Homo sapiens: one gene and its partners. Each later gene encodes a partner of the first gene's protein in a complex. Each region holds a gene or a part of one and is shown on either strand. Other genes may lie near its edges. The genes, in order: AAR2, PRPF8 and SNRNP40.

Evidence for each region.
Region 2: AAR2 (region 1) and PRPF8 share a complex: the UniProt entries of both Homo sapiens proteins name them as parts of the U5 snRNP complex.
Region 3: AAR2 (region 1) and SNRNP40 share a complex: the UniProt entries of both Homo sapiens proteins name them as parts of the U5 snRNP complex.

What each region holds. Positions count from the first base shown.
Region 1 is NC_000020.11:36,231,478-36,239,582, reverse strand, and holds the start of AAR2 (protein AAR2 homolog), read right to left. Parts: upstream 3,106-8,105; 5' UTR 3,080-3,105; exon of another isoform or gene 2,801-3,079; intron 2,702-2,800; exon of another isoform or gene 2,546-2,701; intron 1-2,545. UniProt on the Homo sapiens protein: Component of the U5 snRNP complex that is required for spliceosome assembly and for pre-mRNA splicing.
Region 2 is NC_000017.11:1,674,848-1,681,952, reverse strand, and holds part of PRPF8 (pre-mRNA-processing-splicing factor 8), read left to right. Parts: coding exon 1-133; intron 134-262; coding exon 263-475; intron 476-898; coding exon 899-1,024; intron 1,025-1,121; coding exon 1,122-1,227; intron 1,228-2,153; coding exon 2,154-2,344; intron 2,345-2,542; coding exon 2,543-2,662; intron 2,663-2,746; coding exon 2,747-2,936; intron 2,937-3,071; coding exon 3,072-3,191; intron 3,192-3,300; coding exon 3,301-3,435; intron 3,436-4,258; coding exon 4,259-4,388; intron 4,389-4,780; coding exon 4,781-4,977; intron 4,978-5,241; coding exon 5,242-5,448; intron 5,449-5,582; coding exon 5,583-5,746; intron 5,747-5,898; coding exon 5,899-6,025; intron 6,026-6,140; coding exon 6,141-6,333; intron 6,334-6,613; coding exon 6,614-6,801; intron 6,802-7,105. UniProt on the Homo sapiens protein: Plays a role in pre-mRNA splicing as core component of precatalytic, catalytic and postcatalytic spliceosomal complexes, both of the predominant U2-type spliceosome and the minor U12-type spliceosome.
Region 3 is NC_000001.11:31,279,728-31,286,832, forward strand, and holds part of SNRNP40 (U5 small nuclear ribonucleoprotein 40 kDa protein), read right to left. Parts: intron 1,770-7,105; coding exon 1,647-1,769; intron 1-1,646. UniProt on the Homo sapiens protein: Required for pre-mRNA splicing as component of the activated spliceosome. Component of the U5 small nuclear ribonucleoprotein (snRNP) complex and the U4/U6-U5 tri-snRNP complex, building blocks of the spliceosome.

The DNA of each region.
Region 1 (8,105 bases):
GAAAAGTGACATGCTCATGGTCATACCAGGACCCAAATTAGAATCTGGATACCCTGCCTGCAGGCCAGTGTTCTGTCCACCGTCCATTCTTAATATCTTCTCAGATCTCTTTCTCACAACAGAGGGTGAGGGTGGAAAATGCCTGGACAGGTCACTCTAAACTATATGCCTACATCATTTAAAACTACAATTCTGCCAAAAAACTATCCCAAAAGATTTGGAAAGATTAAATCAAGTACATATCCAGTTTCCCATAAGCCTCAGGGAAGGCCCAGAAATGGACAGACGGTAGCAAGTGGAGGCTCAGCATCTAAAGTTTGTTCAGGGTCTAGAGAGCTTTCCTACCACAAATCTCCCCTCTTCTTTCACTCATAAAAAACCTAAACTCCAGGGAGTGAAACAACTTCCCAAAGAGCCCACAATCAGTGGTGGCTCTGGACCATTCATCCAGAATGAATTCAGGTGGTAAAGCTAGCCTAGGAAGAGAAAGCTGGCCAGAAGAGAAAGAGCTTAGTACACTTATTTTACCTACTTCTGAATATCCCAGACATTGCCTCTGGGATATCGGCAAGAATGGTACCAACATGAACAAATGTAAACAAACCATTATGCAACCTTCTAGTCCTAAGATACCTACCTGACTAATTTAACAAATACTCACTGAGTGCCTGCATTGTGCCAGGATCTTTGCCAGGCCCCCAAAAAACATCACAGATTAAGACAGTCACTGCCCTCTAGGCAATTCCAATCTAGCCAAGACGTCAAAATTTCACACACAGAAAAACGAGCTGCCTGTTTAATTGTTTACTTTTTTTTTTTTTTTTTTTGAGACAGGGTCTCGCTCTGTCACCCCAGCTGGAGTGCAGTGGCGTGATCTCGGCTCACTACATCGTCCACCTCCCGGGTTCAAGCAATTCTTGTGCCTCAGCCTCCCAAGCAGCTGAGACTACCGGTGTGTGCCACCACACCTGGCTAAGTTTTGTATTTTTAGTACAGAGAGGGTCTCACCATGTGGCCTAGGCTAGTCTGGAACTCCTGACCTCAGTGATCTGCCCGCCTCGGCCTCCCAAAGTGCTGAGATAACAGGTGTGAGCCACCATGCCTGGCCCTGTTTACCCTTTTTACTTTAAATAAAGCAGTGCAGAAAGGAAGACCAATCCTTTTCCAAAAATAAGAGCACATTTTATCATTGTTACCTCAAAACCACCACAAATGACTCTTACCCTGAATCAGCACTTTGTGTTTCACCAAACTGCAAGTCACAATCCATTAGTGGATTAGGAAATCAATGTGAAGGTCTCAACCAGCATTATTTTTTAAACGAAAATAACAGAATTTTTGAAATATCACAATACATCATGAGTAGTAAAGCTAAGTACTGTTTTCTGGAGCTTTGTGTGTTTGTGTGTATACTTGGTTGTGCCATAAAATGTATTCGTTACTGTAGGTCACAGTCATAAAAGTTTGAAAGACTCTGCTCTAAATAATTCGTATCAACAGGCCGGGCGTGGTGGCTCACGCCTGTAATCACAGCACTTTGGGAGGCCGAGGCGGATGGATAATGAGGTCAGGAGTTTGAGACCAGCCTGGCCAATACTGTGAAACCCCATCTCTACTAAAAATACAAAAAAAATTAGCCGCGCATGGTGGTGTGCGCCAGTAGTCCCAGCTACTTGAGAAGCTGAGGCAGAAGAATTGCTTGAACCTGGGAGGCAGAGGTTGCAGTGAGCTGAGATCACACCACTGCACTCCAGCCTGGGGGTCTGAGCGAATTCCGTCTCAAAATAATAATAATAATAATAATAATAATAATAATAATAATAATAATAATACGTATCATCTTCCTATTTGTAATCCTGAATTCAGAAAGTATTTAATATTTGCTGAATGAACAGATATTCCATTTACAATAACAGCTCATCAATTAGCCATTTTCCCTTGTGACATCTGTGTGCTCCTCCTTGATAATGACGTTTCTTTCATGCTAATTCCACCAGTCTGTAATTCTATTCACTATATCTCCAGCAGCTGGCACAGGGCCTAGCACAGAGGAGATGCTAGGAAAACGTTTATTAAATATGCATAGAACTCTGCAGTCTACCAGCCCCTGTCACTGACAGCTCTGTGAGTTCCTCACAGTCCTGGAACACCTAAAGTCACATCCATCCACTTCTCTCCACCACCTCCCTAATCCAAGCTACCATCGTCCCTCACTCAGAGTGCTTGCTCCTCAACCCATTCTCCATTCAACAGCAGTAACCTTTTCAAAATGCCAATCTAATCACAACACCACCCATGTCAGCTTCTGAGTGGTTTCCCATATGGTTCTTGAAAAACCAGAATTCTTCCTATTACCTACAAAGCCTGCACGGTCTGACTCCTGGCAACCCCTTTAGCTTGTGTCACACAATGGTCCCCCACAAGCTCTCTGTTCCAGCCACAACGGCCTCTTTCAGAACCTGAAATTGGAGGCTGTCTCCATATAGAAAACTCTTCCCTCCCCACTTTGTCAAATCCTTTTTTCTGATCTCAGCTCAATATTCACCTCCTCAGTAAAGGTTCCTTGCCCTGGGGCTAGGTCAGGTCTCCTGTGATATAATCTGGGGTGCCTTGTACCTTTCCGTCTCAATGATCACAACTGCAGTTTTGGATGTTTGATTGAAGGCTGTCATCGCCACGAGACTTGAGTCCTGCTGTATCCCTAGCACAGATTCAACGCTTAGTAAACATTTATTTAATACAAGTATGATATCCATTTTGTAAACGAGAAACAAAGCCTCAGTTCGGGGAAAGACCTTACTGGAAGTCACGCAGAGAGTAGGGCAGAGCCAGGTCGAGTGCAATCAGGGTCTCCGGCCCCCAGGCTCTAAAGTTAAGAAAACCGCGACGTAACTCTGGCGACGGCTTCTCAGGAAGGGCCTCCAGAGACACCAGCGTCCCACAAACAGAGAACCAGCCGCCCCGGCGAGGTGGGCCTAGTTCAAGGCACTCCGTGACTCTGAGCCGAGAAGAGGGGCGGCCCAGCCACACATACACAAGGAATCAGGAAAGGAAAAAGAGGCCAGGAGGCCACACTCACCGCCTCGCCCCACGTTCCGGTACAGCGGAAACGCACCGGAAGTTCTCCAGCTTTGGCGTCTGACTGGAGCGACGGGGGAAGCGGTCCGGCAGAGCCCTGGGTCGCGGGAAGAATGGCCCGTGCCTGCAGGTTCCGCCGGATGCAAGGTTGCCTTTTGTTATTCTTAGTTTCTCGTTTTAGCTTCTGAATTGTGAACAACTTTCATTAACCTATGCATTTTATATCCCCGTCCAGAAACACAGCCACCAGCCATCTTACTTTGGGCTCAAGCAGTCATGGTCACTAAAGCACAGCCAAGGCTTGTACCAGTGGCTACTATTCAGAAGTAGCCAGTCAGGCGCTCGGTCACTGTCTTTGTCAGCCAGTCTCTATCCCGGTCACAGTGTCTCAGCTTCCAGTCACACTCAGCCCTCGGGGAGAGCCTCAGAAACCCAGCCACCAGCCCAGAGAGAACCAGCGTCAGCCTCCGCTGCTGCAGCAGCAGCGGTCGCCACCTCAGTCCCTCTGGCCATTATCACCCCGTGTCCTTCCTGCAGGCCAAGTCCTAACATCTCAGTCAGGCTATCAACGCACTAGGGAAGGAATCTGCCTGTCTTGTTCCTCACTGTTTCCCTGGAACCGAGCACAAAGCCAGGCACAAAAGCTCAGCTGAGTACATATATTATGCATTTAATTAATAATGATGATAATTTGGTATTAATAAATAACTATTTGTGGGTCTAACCCTGCACTATTAATCAGGGTTCCACCAAAGATACAGAGCCAGTAGGAGATCTATATTAAGTGATTTATTGCCAAGAATTGGCTTATGTGATTTTAGGGCAGGCCACTTGGGTATTTCTTTTTTTGAGACGCAATCTCACTCTGTCACCCAGGCTGGAGTGCAATGGCGCTATCTCGGCTCACTGCAACCTCCACCTCCTGGGTTCAAGCCATTCTCCTGCCTCAGCCTCCCAAGTAGCTGGGATTACAGGCGCCCACCACCGTGCCTGGCTAATTTTTGTATTTTTAGTAGAGACGGGGTTTCATCTTGTTGGCCAGGCTGGTTTCGAACTCCTGACCTCAGGTGATCTGCCCACCTTGGCCTCTCAAAGTGCTGGGATTACAGGCATGAGCCACCGTGCCCGGCCCACTTGGGTATTTATAATCCTTGCACTAACCCTTGTAAGGTATGTGTATTCCCAATTTGCAGAAGAGAAAACTGAGGTTCAAAGAGATGTTACACAGCCAGAGAATGGCAGAGCTAGAATGCAAACCAAGGGCTGTCTGTTCTTATCTCTTGTGCTGCTGCTCCTTAGCTTGTCTGTCACATTTCCTCAGTGACAGCTGGACACGCCAATCTGTCTCGGTCAAAATTTATCTCTTAGTGGGTTGCAGACTAGACCGGGCCCTGCAGTCATGGTTAATCACAATGAGCTGCTGCAGGATTAACCAGAGACAGCCTCCATCAGTCACAGTCATGCTTACCAATCTCAGCCTGTCCTGTCAAGTTTCATCTCCTGCATGAAGAAGCTCAGCTCCCTCTCCACCCCTCCCCACTCCCAGTCTTAAGTGCTGAGCTCTATGGTCTGGTCTCAAAGCTCCCTGTTTCAGTTGGGCTCACCGTCTTTTCAGAGACTCCAGGACACTGAACACTGGTTGTAGAAGCTGTAAATGGTGGCCTAGGAGTCCCACCTTGTGGGTCACATGTCCATTTAGATCAGAATTTCTCAACCTTGGCACTATTGACATTTGGGGCCAGATAAGTATTTGTTGTATGTGGCTGTCCTGTGCATTGTAGGATGTTTAGCAGCAACCCTGGCGTCTACCCACTAGAGCTAGTAGCACCCCTCAGTTGTGACAACCATTGCTAAATGTCCCCGGGGCGGGGGTTGGGGGTAAAGGAGGAGGGGTCATTTCCCCACTCTCAATGCAGTTGAAAAACACTAATCTGGGTGAACTTACCTTTGATTATTCGACAAAAGCCGAGTCAGGATGGTCCTTTATGGGAGACAGAAATATGGATCAGGGTGTATGGGGTCCTGAGGAATCATATGAAGACCCATTGTTTGTAAACCAAGTCCTATTCCAGAACCCTAGGGATAACAGATTGCTAAAGGAGACCTATAGGGAAAATTCAGAGAAGGATTCATAATGTTCCTCGCAGCAATTGCCTCTGACAAGAGACAGAAATCTGGAGAAGGCTGAAGAATCACTTTTCACTGCATAGTCTTTGTATCATTTAATGAATTACCTTTCCAAAGAAAATAAGTATTTAGTATTTGAAAGTATACGGAAATGCTCAGGATATATATACGTGTATATAGATATATATGTACATATATATACATATATGTACATATATATATTTTAAAGTATTTACAAAAGTATGTACAAGATGACCAACTCTGGAAAAATACATACACATGGAAAAGACTCGCTGGTGAGATTTGCAGCAATAAAGGTGGGCTGAGGTGAGTTGCTTGGTGGAATAAAAGGAAAGTGTGGTGTGTGCACCTCAGGTGGTCCAAGGGATGAGTTTAGGTTTTAAGTGCATTGTGGTTGTTAATTTTAATATTTTTGCATTTATTTTATGAAGACCTCCTTTCTTGGCAAATAACATAAGCTTTTCATTTGTGGAAGTAATATAGTTTCCTTTTTAAATGCATTTGCTTTTAACGTGAGTCAATTTATTTAGTTAGTTATTTTATTTTATTATTTTTTTGAGACGGAGTCTCTCTCTGTCACCCAGGCTGGAGTGCAGTAGCACGATCTCGGCTCACTGCAACCTCCGCCTCCTGGGTTCAAGCGATTCTCCCGCCTCAGCCTCCCGAGTAGCTGGGATTACAGGTGTGCACCACCACACCCGGCTAATTTTTTGTATTTTTAGTAGAGATGGGATTTCACTATGTGGGCCAGGCTGGTCTTGAACTCCTGACCTCAGGTAATCTGCCTGCCTCAGCCTCTCAAAGTGCTGGGATTACAGGCGTGAGCCACTGCACTTGACCTGAGTCAATTTAAAGAAAAATAAGTGAATAATGGGACAGGTGGTATGAGGATATGGGAACATATATAGAGGTTCTGGGCAAAGGCCGAAGTTGAGGATTGCTGTATTTTTTCCCACTAGGCTCCCATGTAGGGGGGTTACAGGAAGAGAGACTCCAATGTAGGTACTCTTCTTTCAGGAGGAGGGACCATGCTGTTTCTCCGCTCAATAAGCCCCTCCACGTCCTGGGGCCTGTATGCTTACTGTTCCCTCTCCTAGAATGTGCACCAAAGTTCCTCGCCTTTGTTGATTGATCCTTCTTTTCATTCAGCTCACAGATCGCCTCCTCAGGGAGGCCTTACCTGGCCACTGTATTTAAAGTGGTCTCCTTCAGTGACCCTCCTTCCCTTCTCCCGGTGTATTTCCTTCCTAGTGCTGAGTGCTCTGTAACGGACTGTTTGCCTGTGTTGGCATCTGTTTCCTCCACTAGCCTGTGGGTTCATGAAGGGCAGGGACTTTTGTCTTGTTTGTGTTGTGCCTGGAGAGTCACCCAAGGCCTGGACCACCTTGAGTTCCAAATATTTGTTGCATAAACATGTTCTAAGTTGGGATGTCTCCACTTCAGTTTTAGCCCCTCCCACAGTGCCAACTTGTACCAGTGGCCAAAGTCAGAGAGAGACAGTGAGAGAGAGAGAGAGAGAGAGAGAGAGAGAGAGAGAGAGGAGAGGTGCCAAGGAAGTATGGTTCAGCATCAAACACATTTATTTCACTTATATTGAGTATACAAGAACAGAGAGCACACGCATACAGCACGGAGCACTGAGGTGGGGGAGCATGGGGACGAGAAAGGAGAGAAGGGTGTGAGTAAAAAGGAACAGGACAGCATCGCAATTGGTTGTTAAGGTGCTTTTGAAAAAAAAAATTATTTCGAGTGATGTTGCTCATGCAGTTTCAGGCCAGTCTTGGAATGTGCTTGCAGGATTCAAAAACTGAAACAGGTCCTGGTACTTCCTGTACCCTCAGATGGAAAAGATCCAGAGAAAACAAAATAAGAGAAAATGAAGACCCATGAGATAGCAAAGTAGAAAAAGACCCTGGAGAGCATCTGGTTCTTTCTGCTTATTTTGCAAGTCGGGAAACTGAGGCCCAAGAGGGGGAATGGGGATAGCCTGATGTCACATGGTGAGTTAGGAGCTGAGCCAGGATGGTCACCCAGAACTCCTAACCGCCCTCAGGGACTTTTTCCACTATGCTACATGGCCTCCTGGGTGGAGAGGTGGCACAGAGAGGATGAGAAACAAAAAAGAGAAAAGGAAAAGTAGGTTGAAGACAGACAAGACAAACGTCTCTATTCTCTACAAAGAGAAGGATGGGGAGGAAACAGTGCCCTAGATTCTAGCTTTGCAGGTCCCCTCCTCCCTCGTGGCACTGCCTGCATCTCCGTAGAAGGGAGGTCACAGCATCCGCGGGATGGTGATTTCCCCAAACCCTGGTGGCCCATAAACTCCACAAGCTAAGCCTGGTCACTTCACCCCTGCCCCAAAGCCAGGTGCAAAATCCACAACAAGGATCCTCCCTCTGAGGTGTGTTCAGTGTGCTCAGGACTCCTGGTTCCTGCAAAGATGAGTTCCTAGACCGAAGTGGCCCAGAGAGGATGGAGCCACCACTCCAGCTCTTGACCCAGAAAGAGGGGGAACTCTCAAGAAGGGCAGGAAGAAGGTTCTGTGGCTTTTCCACCAGGATTGTAGAAAGAACCTGGTGTATGGAAAGTGTGCTGCTACACTCAGGGGGAGTTGGAGTGGACCCACCGGCCTGCACCAGGGGGAATGCCACTGATTCTGCTGCCCCGCTGAACTTCCCATTTGCCCAGAGAAGCAAATGCTATTCTGATTTCCTGCCCTGCCTCAGGCCAGCACCAGCTAAGCAGCTAAGGTGTATGTCATCACTGACAAGCCAAAGGGACGCATCTAACCTGGGCCGCCTGGGGGCATCCCTGGGCTATGCCCCGATAGGTTGGCGAGAGTGGGGAGATGCTCTCAGATGGGCCAGCCATGGTTGAAA
Region 2 (7,105 bases), on another chromosome or scaffold:
CGCCCTTGGACTATGCTGACAACATCCTAGATGTTGAGCCACTGGAGGCCATTCAGCTAGAGCTGGACCCTGAGGAGGACGCCCCTGTGTTGGACTGGTTCTATGACCACCAGCCGTTGAGGGACAGCAGGAAGTGAGTGATAGATGGAGATACTACACCTGGGAGGAGTTCTGGAAATGCAGAAGGAGTCCTGGGAGATCAGTAGGTGGTATGGGTTTGTCTAGCTGCTTACTTGAGGTGGGCCTTTCATTTTTTACCTAGGTATGTAAATGGCTCCACTTACCAGCGCTGGCAGTTCACACTACCTATGATGTCGACTCTCTACCGCCTGGCTAATCAGCTCCTGACAGACTTGGTGGATGACAACTACTTCTACCTGTTTGATTTGAAGGCCTTCTTTACGTCCAAGGCACTCAATATGGCCATTCCTGGAGGCCCCAAATTTGAACCTCTTGTTCGAGACATCAACCTACAGTGAGTTGGAGAGATTAGGGATTTTAGACATTTTGAGTTGAATGAAACGTAATCTTGATCCTTAAAGTCCTGATATAACTTCCAAATTAGTCTGTTTACACCAGGTGCAGTGGCTCACGCTGTAATCTCAGCACTTTGGGAAGCTGAGGCAGGAGGATTGCTTGAGCCCAGAAGTTTGAGACCAATCTGGGCAAAATGGCAAAACCCTATCTTTACCAAAAAATGTAGCTGGGCGTGGTGACACTCACAGCTTCGTGTAGTCTCAGTTACTTGGGAAGCTGAGCTGTGGGAGGATTGTTTGAGCCCAGGAGGTCACGGCTGCAGTGAACGATGATCATGCCATTGCATTCCAGCTTGGGTGATAAGAGTGAGACCCTGTCTCAAAAAAAAAAAAGTCTGCTTATTCTTGATGTTGTACCCTAGGGATGAAGACTGGAATGAATTCAATGATATTAACAAGATTATCATCCGGCAGCCTATCCGCACTGAGTACAAGATTGCTTTTCCTTACTTGTACAACAATCTTCCACACCATGTCCACCTCACCTGGTAAGAGACCTGGAACACAACATTTGGAAAGGAGAAGGCTGCTGTTTAGGTTGGGCCAGGGCGGGAAAACTTTGGCTGACTCTTCCTTTCATTTTAGGTACCATACTCCCAATGTTGTATTCATCAAAACTGAGGATCCTGACTTGCCAGCTTTCTACTTTGACCCTTTGATCAACCCAATCTCCCATAGGCACTCAGTCAAGGTGAGGAAGGGAAGGGATGCTTTCCCTCAGCTCTTCTAGGAGAAATGCGTGAGGTTGGCTGATGTTACTAAACGCTCAGGTGGAGGGAGATGTGTTTTCCGTCTTGCTAAGTGTTCCCCTTGAGCTATAAGCGAATATGAGAATTCAGCATTTGCTTTAAAACATGTCATTGGTATAATCCTGTTTTCTGTGATTATCCTTTTGGACTTTACGGTTCTTTTCTTGGGTGCTCTAGATAATCTGTCCCGGTCTGTCTCTATTGTGTTTGTTTGTTTTAGCCTTTATATTGAGATGTAGTTAACATACCATACAAGTTATCCATTTAAAGTGTGTAATTTGATGGTTTTTAGCTTATTCTCAGAGTTGTCCCAACTGTCACGACATGCAATTTGAGAATATTTTTATTACTTGAGAAAGAAACCCTTAGCAGTTACTCGCCATTTCTCCCCAACTTCCTTACGCAACCACTAATCTACTTTCTGTCTATAGATTTGGCTATTCTACACATTTCATATGATAGAATGAAATAGAATCGTACACTATGTAGTCTTCAGTGACTGGCTTCTTAAGCTTACCATAATGTTTTTGATGCTCATCTGTGTTCCGTTGTGTCCAAGCCCAGTGTTTGGAGCTTGGGTGGGAGATGATTGCAATGTTGACCTCCTGTGATGTTGGGGCTCCATTGGGAGGCTTTCTGGTGGTCAGCCAGTTGAGGTGTGAGAAGTGACGCTTGCTTTCCTGGTGGCCCTGTCTTGTTCTTTGCTGTCTTGGTTTCCTTTGTGCTGGCACTTCAGGGCTGCTTTTGTCAGACAGCCCAGTTTCCATAGCAGATACAGGCTTTGTGCTTGGCCCCAGAGAATTTCCCTCATCTTAAGTCTGTGCCTAGTTCAGCAGGAGCTAAACCCTTAGAGGGATTCCTTTTTCAGAGCCAGGAACCATTGCCGGATGATGATGAGGAATTTGAGCTCCCGGAGTTTGTGGAGCCCTTCCTGAAGGACACACCCCTCTATACAGACAATACAGCCAATGGCATTGCCCTGCTCTGGGCCCCGCGGCCCTTCAACCTACGCTCTGGTCGCACCCGTCGGGCCCTGGACATACCCCTTGTCAAGAACTGGTAAGGTTTTTCCCTGTGGCAGGGGGAATGATAGTGGATGTGTAGGAGAAAAGACTCCAACTAGGTGGGCATGTAGCCTTTTTTTTAAATTCTTTTTTTTTTTTTCCCATAAAAATGGTAGACAACCCAAGGCTTGCAGCCTTTAGCAGAGTGTCTGGAAGAAGAGATGGCCAAACTCTGGTGGGCTTATTTTTCCAGGTATCGGGAGCATTGTCCTGCCGGGCAGCCTGTGAAAGTGAGGGTCTCCTACCAGAAGCTGCTTAAGTACTATGTGCTGAATGCCCTGAAGCATCGGCCCCCTAAGGCTCAAAAGAAGAGGTAAGGTGCCCCAGGGGCCCTGCGCAGACTTCTGTTCCAGAGATATCAGTAGGCTGACTCTTACTCTCCATGTTCCCACCTCAGGTATTTGTTCCGCTCCTTCAAAGCCACCAAATTCTTTCAGTCCACAAAGCTGGACTGGGTGGAGGTTGGGCTCCAGGTTTGCCGCCAGGGCTACAACATGCTCAACCTTCTCATTCACCGCAAAAACCTCAACTACCTGCACCTGGACTACAACTTCAACCTCAAGCCTGTGAAAACGCTCACCACCAAGGTGCCTGCATTGGACCCTAGGGGCCTCCTGGGCTTCAAGGACGGACAGTTGTTTTCCTCTGGTTACTGATGAAGGCATACATCAGTTGGGTCCATTGCTCATTCACGTTCTGTCTGTTTTTTGCATCTTCTCCAGGAAAGAAAGAAATCTCGTTTTGGGAATGCTTTCCACCTGTGTCGGGAAGTTCTGCGTTTGACTAAGCTGGTGGTGGATAGTCACGTGCAGTATCGGCTGGGCAATGTGGATGCCTTCCAGGTAAGGTTAGGTATTCCCAACCCCTGCCTGGGTGAGGACGCTGGAGGAAGCCTGTGCTGACCGTGGAGCTGGTTTAAGCTCCAGGTCTGATGGGGCAATTGTATTGCAGCTGGCAGATGGATTGCAGTATATATTTGCCCATGTTGGGCAGTTGACGGGCATGTATCGATACAAATACAAGCTGATGCGACAGATTCGCATGTGCAAGGACCTGAAGCATCTCATCTATTATCGTTTCAACACGGTGAGACCTTGACTTTACTGACTTTCTTTTTTTTGAGACAGAGTCTTACTCTTGTCTCTTGGGCTGGTGTGCAATGGCACGATCTTGGCTCACTGCAACCTCCGCCTCCTGAGTTCAAGCAATTCTCCTGCCTCAGCCTCCCGAGTAGCTGGGATTACAGGTGCCCGCCACCACGCCTGGCAATTTTTTTTTTGTTTTGTTTTGAAACTGAGTCTTTCTCTGTTGCCCCAGCTGGAGTACAATGGCACGATCTTGGCTCACCACAGCCTCCGCCTCCCGGGTTGAAGTGATTCTCCTGCTTCAGCCTCCCAAGTAGCTGGGACTACAGGCGCGCACCACCATGCCTGGCTAGTTTTTGAAATTTTAGTAGAGATGGGGTTTCACTGTATTGGCCAGGCTGGTCTTGAACTCCTGACCTCAGGTGATCCACACTCCTCGGCCTCCCAAAGTACTGGGATTACCAGCGTGAGTCACCGTGCCCAGCCTCACTGGACTTAACTTTCTCAGATCTTTTTTCATGTATACATTTAGACAGGGCTCTTTCCAGGGACCTATTTGGAGAGCAGCTATGACTGTGTCCTTACTGCTCCTTTAAATTCACATGGGCGATCTTAGTTCCTGGTTTTTGCCTTAAGGTTTCTCATTTACCCTTTTGTTTTAGATGTTGAGGTCCCAGAGTTTTTTTTTCTTTTTACCCCTCTACTGCCATACCTACATTCCTCTGTATGTATATTATACATATATGCCCCACCTCTGCCCAGGTTTCTATTGTTGTTTAAATGCATTGCTAACTTGTATTCTTAACTTCTGCTTGGGATCGTAGGGCCCTGTAGGGAAGGGTCCTGGCTGTGGCTTCTGGGCTGCCGGTTGGCGAGTCTGGCTCTTTTTCATGCGTGGCATTACCCCTTTATTAGAGCGATGGCTTGGCAACCTCCTGGCCCGGCAGTTTGAAGGTGAGTGGTTTTCTCTGTGTCCAACTTCTCCTGTTATTGCTTCAAAAGTACCTGCCCCTGTTTGAGTCTGTTCCCTGCTCTTGTATGAGCACTCTTCCTACTGGATTGCCTTTAGGTCCAGTTCTGAAATGAGTCTGACCTAGTATTCTATTTCTTGGGCTTCCTTCTGGGGCCTTGAGAGGCAGTCATGCATTTGCAGGAGTGGAAATTCCTCAGAAGCATAGTTGTGAATGTTTAAGGTAGCTCGTCTTTTTGCATATGCTGGGCACAGGGACGCTTTGTTAATACCTAATTTTATTAATAACCATAATGAGTGAGGAGCATGAAGGTAGAGACCCTTATTGAAAGCAAGGAATCTTCCTTGTAATCCCCTTGGGACACTCTACTTCCAGGTCGACACTCAAAGGGGGTGGCAAAGACAGTAACAAAGCAGCGAGTGGAGTCACATTTTGACCTTGAGCTGCGGGCAGCTGTGATGCATGATATTCTGGACATGATGCCTGAGGGGATCAAGCAGAACAAGGCCCGGACAATCCTGCAGCACCTCAGTGAAGCCTGGCGCTGCTGGAAAGCCAACATTCCCTGGAAGGTGGGTGTCTCTTTATTTCCTTGGAGGCGTAAACATCCGTCTTTAGGGTAGGATTACCACTTCGGGAATCATTAGGGGGCTATCTGGCTCCAATCTCTTTTCTTTTCCCTTTTAGACAGGGAAAAGAAGCACCATGTTGCTTAGGCTGGCCTCAAGCTCCTGAGCTCAAGCGATCCTCCTTAGCCTCCTGAGTAGCCGGGACTACAGATGTGTGCCACAGTGCCTGGCTGGATCCTGGCTTGATTGTGCTTTTTGGACTTTTAGGTCCCTGGGCTGCCGACGCCCATAGAGAATATGATCCTTCGATACGTGAAGGCCAAGGCTGACTGGTGGACCAACACTGCCCACTACAACCGAGAACGGATCCGCCGAGGGGCCACTGTGGACAAGACTGTTTGTAAAAAGAATCTGGGCCGCCTCACCCGGCTCTATCTGAAGGCAGAACAGGAGCGGCAGCACAACTACCTGAAGGTTGGGCAGAGTAGGCTGGGCTGGGTGTGAGTGGTGGGGGAGTGGGCAAGAGGGAGGACTGTAGAGTTGTGACTGAACCTTGTTCTGGCAGGATCGGGCTGTAGCGGGAGGCTAATTTCATGTCCACCTTACAGGACGGGCCTTACATCACAGCGGAGGAAGCAGTGGCAGTATATACCACCACAGTGCATTGGTTGGAAAGCCGCAGGTTTTCACCCATCCCATTCCCCCCACTCTCCTATAAGCATGACACCAAGTTGCTCATCTTGGCATTGGAGCGGCTCAAGGAAGCTTATAGGTGAGTAGTAGGGTAGATAGGTTCCTGCTGGGAAGGTGACAGCAGGGAATGGCGTCATCCTCAGAGTCCAAAGAAAGAAGGTGTAGCCCCAGTCTTTCCTGGTTTTACTTCCTCCTAGTTTTCCCATTCACCCTTCCCATTGCTTTTGTCAGTGTGAAGTCTCGGTTGAACCAGTCTCAGAGGGAGGAGCTAGGTCTGATCGAGCAGGCCTACGATAACCCCCACGAGGCGCTGTCCCGCATCAAGCGTCACCTCCTCACACAGAGAGCCTTCAAAGAGGTGAGTGAGGCCTCCCAAGTTTTCTTTTTGGTTCTACCAAAGGTAGCAGTTGCCTTTGGTTCTACCAAAGGTAGCAGTTGGTGGATTGGTGTGAACCAGCCTCCTTGTCCCACAGGTGGGCATTGAGTTCATGGATCTGTATAGCCACCTCGTTCCAGTATATGATGTTGAGCCCCTGGAGAAGATAACTGATGCTTACCTGGACCAGTACCTGTGGTATGAAGCCGACAAGCGCCGCCTGTTCCCACCCTGGATTAAGCCTGCAGACACAGAACCACCTCCGCTGCTTGTTTACAAGTGGTGTCAAGGTAGAACTTTCATGAGATCGCCCTGTGAGGAACGGGGCAGGAATTTAGTTCTACGTCAAAAATCTCATCTGGGTAGCATGATTGGTTTACTCTCTTGATGCGTGGTAGTAAAGGGAAGTAGTGTTCGTGTTAAACTGAGGAAAAGCCCATAGTCAAAGCAATCCAAATGAATACGTGGAATCATAGTGGGATTGGTTATGGAAGGTAATGATAGTTCCTGTGGGGCTAGTCTTGCAAGAGGATTTCTAACCTGCTGGAGACCTGCCTTGCTACTCCTCAGGCATCAATAACCTGCAGGACGTGTGGGAGACGAGTGAAGGCGAGTGCAATGTCATGCTGGAATCCCGCTTTGAGAAGATGTATGAGAAGATCGACTTGACTCTGCTCAACAGGCTGCTGCGCCTCATCGTGGACCACAACATAGCCGACTACATGACAGCCAAGAACAACGTCGTCATCAACTATAAGGTGCGTCTCAGGCGCAGTAGCATGGAATTGTGTGTGGAGTGCTTGTCTGGCCCACTGACTCAGAATTTGCTGAGGAGGAGGCTGGGTGCGGTGGCTCATGCCTGTAATCCCAGCACTTTGGGAGGCTGAGGCGGGCAGATCACGAGGTCAGGAGTTCGAGACCAGTCTGGCCAACATGGTGAAACCCCGTCTCTACTTAAAAAAATACAAAAATTAGTTGGGTGTGGTGGTGGGCGCCTGTAATCCCAGCTACTTGGGAGGCTGAGGCAGGAGAATCACTTGAACCCGGGAAGTGGAGGTTGCA
Region 3 (7,105 bases), on another chromosome or scaffold:
CAGAGTGAGACTCTGTCTCAAAAAAAAGAAAAGTAGAAAAGAAGAGGTTGAAAGAAGTGACGAAGGATTGAAACCCTCACATTTAAAGGACTACCTTTAGGCCGGGCACGGTGGCTCACACCCGTAATCCCAGCACTTTGGGAGGCCGAGGCAGGTGGATCACAAGGTCAGGAGTTCGAGATAAGCCTGCCCAACATGGTGAAACCCTGTCTCTACTAAAAAATACAAAAATTAGCTGGGCATGGTGGCACGTGCCTGTAATCCCAGCTACTCAGGAGGCTGAGGCAGGAGAATTGCTTGAACTGGGACCCAGGAGGCAGAGGTTGCAGTGAGCTGAGATAGCACCACTGCACTCCAGCCTGGGCTACAGAGGAAGACTCTGACTCAAAAAAAAAAAAAAAAAAAAAGGACTACCTTTAGACAAAAGCAAGGATATTCCTTTCTTTTTTTTTTTGGAGATGGAGTCTTGCTCCGTGGCCAGGCTGGAGTGCAGTGGCGTGATCTCAGCTCACCGCAACTTCTGACTCCCAGGTTCAAGTAATCTCCTGCCTTAGCCTCCTGAGTAGCTGGGATTACAGGCACACCACCATCACATCCAGCTAATTTTTGTATTTTCAGTAGAGACGAGGTTTCACCACATTGGCCAGGACGGTCTCGGTCTCCTGACCTTGTGATCCACCCGCCTCGGCCTCCCAAAGTGCAGGGATTTCAGGTGTGAGCCACCACACCTGGCCAAAAGCAAGGATATTTCATCCAAAGTAACAGCAAAGGAAACAATGAGGGATGGAAATACAGTACAACTTCTAGGTAAGGACAACACAGAAAGTTGAGTATCTGACAGTTACTCTTCTTACTATAAAGCAGAAGGTAAGGTCAAAGTCGTTAAGATCCCCAAGGAAGCCAAGAGGAAAGGAAGACAGAAGCTGTGCAGGCCCAAAATAATACATTTCCTGGCACTTGTTATGTCCAGGAATTCTGCTAAGTGCTCTAATGAATCAGGCTCATTTAATCCCCACAATGGTATGTGGTAGATGCTACTGTTTTTTTTTTTTTTTATCATTACCCCCTCACCATTCACACAAGAAAAAGAGGCTTAAAGAAGGTGCTTGAAGTCACAAAACTAGAAAATGGTGAAACTGGGATTAGAACCCAAGTCAATTACTTGAAAGTTTGAGCTACACTCTACTGCCATATGGTCTATTGCCTCTTTAATATCATTACCTTCTCTCATTCTTAGAGAAACTTAGAAAACTCTCTTTCCATAGTGTCAAAAAGAAAAACACAGTGAGAGATGAGGATACAGAATCACAAACTGATTCACTGCTCTCTTTAAACCAAGATGGTTAAAAAAAGATTTTGAATGTCTTTAAAAGGAAATGCACTCTTTATTTTTTACATAGTCCCCCTACAGAGACTTCACACTTCACATTAAGTGCCTGGTCCCTGACAGCATTTATAAGATCTGCAATGCAAACTTTAATTTAGGAAGTCAATGAAGACAGGAGAAAAAGAAAATAAGTTCCAAGTTACTATTTTCCTTTCAGTTGGTATTAAGTGCAAAGCTACCACAATCTCAGAAGTTTGAAAAAATTCGTTTCTAAGTGCAGATAGATGAAATGGAAATATATCATAAACATCAAACATACCTTGATATCATTGTCTATTCCACCAGAAATAATCTGATCACTTGTGTCATTGAAGGTCACAGCTAACACCTGGTACGTGTTCTGAAATGTCTGGATGGCTGCTTTCTTCCGGATGTCCCAAAGCTGAAGCAAAGGACAAGACAGTCTATCAGCAACATCATTCTAAGAAGCAATTGCACAGTACAAATATCCCTTAAGTACGAGGACTTTGTGGACATGAACACATCTATAATTGGGATCCTATATCACTAACTCCTGGATATCCTAATAACACACATGGTAAGCAGTGTGCTCAATTTTGCCAAGACATTTGAAGGCTGGTGAAACAAAACTTCGGTTATATTTTCAGACTTCTTTGTTGAAGTGAACAGAGTTAAATCAACATACTCTTAGAATGGAATTCCCCTAACTACTTAGTTCATATATTTTTTAGAACAACAAGGATATCAGACAATTTTTTCAAACCGTAGAGACTAATTCATTAGTAGGCTGCAACCCACATTTAAAAAAATAGAGGGTATGTCAGTGAAAATAGTATAATAAACAATGACAAAAGCTTGTCCCTCCACGAAAGCAGCAAATTAACCAGCAAAATCTGTCAGAATCAACTGTTGGAACTCTCAAAACTAATCAAAAGTTTATAGTAACCCGGCAAACCCTTAATGAGGAAAAAGGAAACAAAAAACTCCCTGAGTCCCAGTAAAAGGGCTTTGTAGTGTTTTAACTTGTGCTGGCTCTGTCTCCTGCTCAGCAACAGCTTTGAAGATAACCCATATTCCCAGTATGGTTTCCTAGTACTGAGGAAGCAAAGGGGGCCTATTTCTTATTGTCAAAGAATAAACAATAAAAATTGTTTATTTTTACCTGTCTGGTGGCTCTCTGAAGGATGAGCCCAAAGGACTTACATTTATTTTGCCTAACTTGGAACTTCCCTTGAAAACATTTAAAGGAAAGGACATTATTAGCCTCTGGTTCCTGGGGGCAAGGAAAAACAGTTGGGGCAAAAATACAAACCAAAAACCTTGGGAGGAAGGGCTGGGGAAGGAGACAATTTGGGGAATAAGAGCTTCGAAAAGCACCGACATATTCCTGGCTATCTATCTATCTATGTATCTATCTATCTATCTATCTATCTATCTATCTATCTATCTAATCTGGGGACACACTCTCCCTCTGTCGCCTAGGCTATCTATCTATCTATCTATCTATCTATCTATCTATCTATCTATCTATCTATCTATCTTTCTATCATCTATATCTATCTATCTATGTATCTATGTGTCTATCTATCTATCTAATCTCTATCTATCTATCTATCTAGGGACAGACTCTCCCTCTGTCACCCAGGCCGGAGTGCGGTGGTGCGATCTTGGCTCACTGCAACCTCCACCTCACGGGCTCAAGCAATTCTCATGTCTCAGCCTCCCGAGTAGGTGGGATTACAGGCGTGTGCCACTATGCCCAGCTAATTTTTGTATTTTTAGTAGAGACAGGGTTTCGCCACGTTGACCAGGCTGGTCTCAAACTCCTGGCCTCAAGTGATCTGTCTGCCTCACCCTCCCAAAGTGCTAAGATTACAGGCATGAGCCACCACGCCTGGCCCATTCCTGGCAATCTAGACCACTTGCATGTCCAGGGCTGGGCACATACTTAGAAAAGATCTGAGAAGGCCGTAAGCTCTCTGGTTCACCTTCAGGCTCTGCACAAGCAGGAAGTGAAAGCTAAGGAGAGATGTAAACTGCATGGCAAGGAGTTGAAGGCAGGCTCCAACATACAAAAAGACAATCTGCAAAGACTGGGAGAATTTTTGTTCTTGTTGTTGTAGGTAATTTAGGAAACTTGTGTCATTCACTAGCTGACCACTAAGCTAACGAAAAAAAGAATTCAGTGGTCACACAGGACAAAGAATACAAACTTTACAAAATTAGTTCAAAAATTCACTAAACAGGCCGGGCATGGTGGCTTACACCTGTAATCCCAGCATTTTGGGAGGCCGAGGTGGATGGATCACTTGAGGTCAGGAGTTCAAGACCAGCGTGGCTAACATGGTAAAACCTTGTTTCTACTAAAAATACAAAAATTAGCTGGTCATGGTGGTGTGCCCCTGTAACCCCAGCTACTCAGGAAGCTGAGGTGCAAGAATCACTTGAACCCGGGGAGTGGAGGTTGCAGTGAGCCAAGATCGCACTACTGCACTCCAGCCTGGGCTACAGAGCGAGACTTCGTCTCAAAAACCAACCAACCAACCACTCTCACCTTACCCCAACCCACAGAAAGTCACTAAACAAACAACTACAATAAGCAGCTCTGGGGACCTAATTTCCAGAGTCACCACGCTATAATATTTAAATGCCTAGTTTTCAACAAAATATAAGGCATGCAAAGAAGCAAGTAACTATGGTCCATATAGAAGGAAAAAGTAGTCTTCTCAACAAATTGTGCTAAGACAACTGGCTAACCACATGCCAAAGAATGAAGGTAAGCCCCTGCCTAACATGATACACAAAAATTAATTCAACATGGATCAAGGACCTAAATGTAAGAGCTAAAACTATAAAATTCTTAGAGGGCCAGGTATGGTGGCTCATGCCTGTAACCCCAGCACTTTCGGAGGCCGAGGCCAGGAGGATGGCTTTAGCCCAGAGTTAGCGACCAGCCTGAGCAACATGGTGATTCCTCATCTCTACAAAATAAAAACAAAAAGTTGGGTGTGGTGGTATATGCCTATAGTCCCAGCTACTTGGGAGGCTGAGATGGGAGGATCGCTTGGGCCAGAGAGGTTGAGGCTGCAGTGAGCCGTGATTGCGGATCTGTACTCCAGCCTGGGTGAGAGTGGCGGCATCTCGGCTCACTGCAACCTCTGCTTCCGTGTTCCAGCAATTCTCCTGCTTTAGCCTCCTGGATAGCTGGGATTACAGGCATGCGCCACCACGCCCAGCTAATTTTTCTATTTTTAGAAGAGACGGGGGTTTCACCATGTTGGCCAGGCTGGTCTCGAACTCCTGACCTCAGGTGATCCACCCACCTTGGCCTCCCAAAGTGGTGGGATTACAGGCGTGAGCCACTGCACCCGGCCAAGACCCCATCTCTTAAACAAACAAACCCTTATAGCTCTACTTTTTTAAAGCGTGGATAACACAGAGAGGGCTCAGAGATGTTTCAATAAATGAATGACACACTTGAGAAGATGAACCACAAGTAAATGATTTAAAAGTATGGGTCGTTTCATTCAGAAGAAAGAGACTTTGGGATGACTGTTCCAAGTTTTAAAGGGCTGGCATCAAAAAGAAAGGAATCAGCCATGGAACTTTAGGGAAGGTCATAGGCTTAACTTCAATCCTGTAGTCAACAAGGAGAGTCTGAGTAGGATCTGTGCCAAGATGCCTCTTCCTCCCAATTCTCATGGTTTAGGATGAAAAGTAGTTTCTTCTTTGTTCATGTAAATACGAACTAAAAATTAGTTCATTACTCAGATAAATGGTCTAAAAAGAACGCTTCACTCCTCTCCTACATGCCCAACATCTCCTACTCCCCCAACTCCTGTGGTTACAGAATCAAGTCCAAACTTCTTAACCTGGAATTCAAGGCCTTAATAATTTAGATCCTATATATTTTATAAACTGTACTATAATCTTTGTCTCAATAGATACTTCACTCAGGTCAAATCTATCTTTGTCTTTCTCCTAAAAGTCATGGTAGTCAAAGTTTGTTTAAAATAATTTAGAATTTTAGTTCCAGATAACTACCACTTTTAATAATTATTTTACTTTGAAGCAATCATAAATTTATAGAAAACTTGGAAGTAAAAAGAACACTTTTTTTGGTCTAAATCATTTGAGAGTAAGTTGCTTACCCAATGCCTTATCACCTTTTTTTTTTTTTTGAGATGGGAGTCTCACTCTGTCTGTTGCTCATTCTGGAGTGCAGTGGCGTGATCTCCGCTCACTGCAACCTCCACCTCCCGGGTTCAAGCAATTCTTCCTCAGCCTCCTGAGTAGCTGGTATTACAGGCATCTGCCACCATGCCCGGCTTTTTTGTATTTTTAGTAGAGACAGGGTTTCTTCAAGTTGGCCAGGCTGGTTTCAAACTCCCGACCTCAAGTGATCCACCTGCCTAGGCCTCCCAAAGTGCTAGGATTACAGGCATAAGCCACTGCACCTGGCCCCTTATCACTCCTAAATAGTGTCTGTCCTACAAAGATGTTCTCCTACATCATCTCAACATAACCATCAAAATCAAGAAATACAGATACACTATCACCATTTTATCCTCAAATCCCACTCAAGTTTTACCAGTTATCCCAAATGTCTTATTGCACAAGGATTCAGTCTGGAATCATATGTTAAATTTAGACTCCAGTCTGCAAGACTCTCTCAAACTTTCCTTGAGTTTTATGAACTCAACACTTCTGAAAGTTACAGGTCATCATCCCCAATTTAGGTTTGTCTTATGTTTCCTCTTGATTAGATTTAAGTTATACATCTTTGGTAGGAATATCACAGAAATGATGCTGCATCTTTGTTGTATCCTAGCAAATGGTTCATGATTTTGTCTTGTCCCATTACTAATTAGGTCGATTTGATAATTTAGTTAGGATGTTCTTTTGACAAAATAAGCCTTGACAAGTACAAGGCTTATCTTGTACTTTCACTGCCCCTGGGCTGAAATAGGAGCCCTGGTTCCTTTTAATGGAAAACAGTACCTGTGCAGTAAGGGGTGCTATTGCTATTGGGGTCTTGTTGCTCCTAAACCTTTTCAGTGGACAGTCAGGCAATATATGTACATTTAGGTACACACACACACACACTCACACATTTATGTCTATTTTTTTCTATATGTTTCTATATTGAATATTGTGAGTTCACACTTATACCTCACACAAGATTCATTTTAGTCTTCTCTTTTGTACTGGTAACTCTGTTCTTGGACAGAGAAATCAGCCTCCCATTAAATTCAATATATTCACTTATTTGATTATGCTTCCTGCATGCAACCAGTTTCCCATATTCTCTTCCACCCTTCCCTACTTGAATTGTGATTCCCATTCTTGGTTGAAGCCATGTGTGACTCTTCCTTAACCAACTTGGGTCATTCCTCTGTGTGAACACCCTCATCACTCTGCTACGGCTCTTTTCCAGTCTGCACTTCTCCAAGCATGCAGTCATCATCTTGCTCAGTCTCAGACTCCCTACACCAAATCATTTCTACCCTGTGTGGATGCCCTCAGTTCAGGCTTTGACATCCACATTCTCCCCGTACTGCTTCACGTACAGGCGACCCTTTCACCCCATTAGGGCACTGTTGGGCTGCTGCCCCTCCCTCACCCTCAAATTCCCCACACTGGTTACCTACCCTGTGTTGTATGGATGCCTTCCTCACTCTCTGACTACTCCCTACAATGTACTGCCCTGCCCAGTGTGGATGCTCTCCTTACCACACTTGTGCTCTGACACTCTAC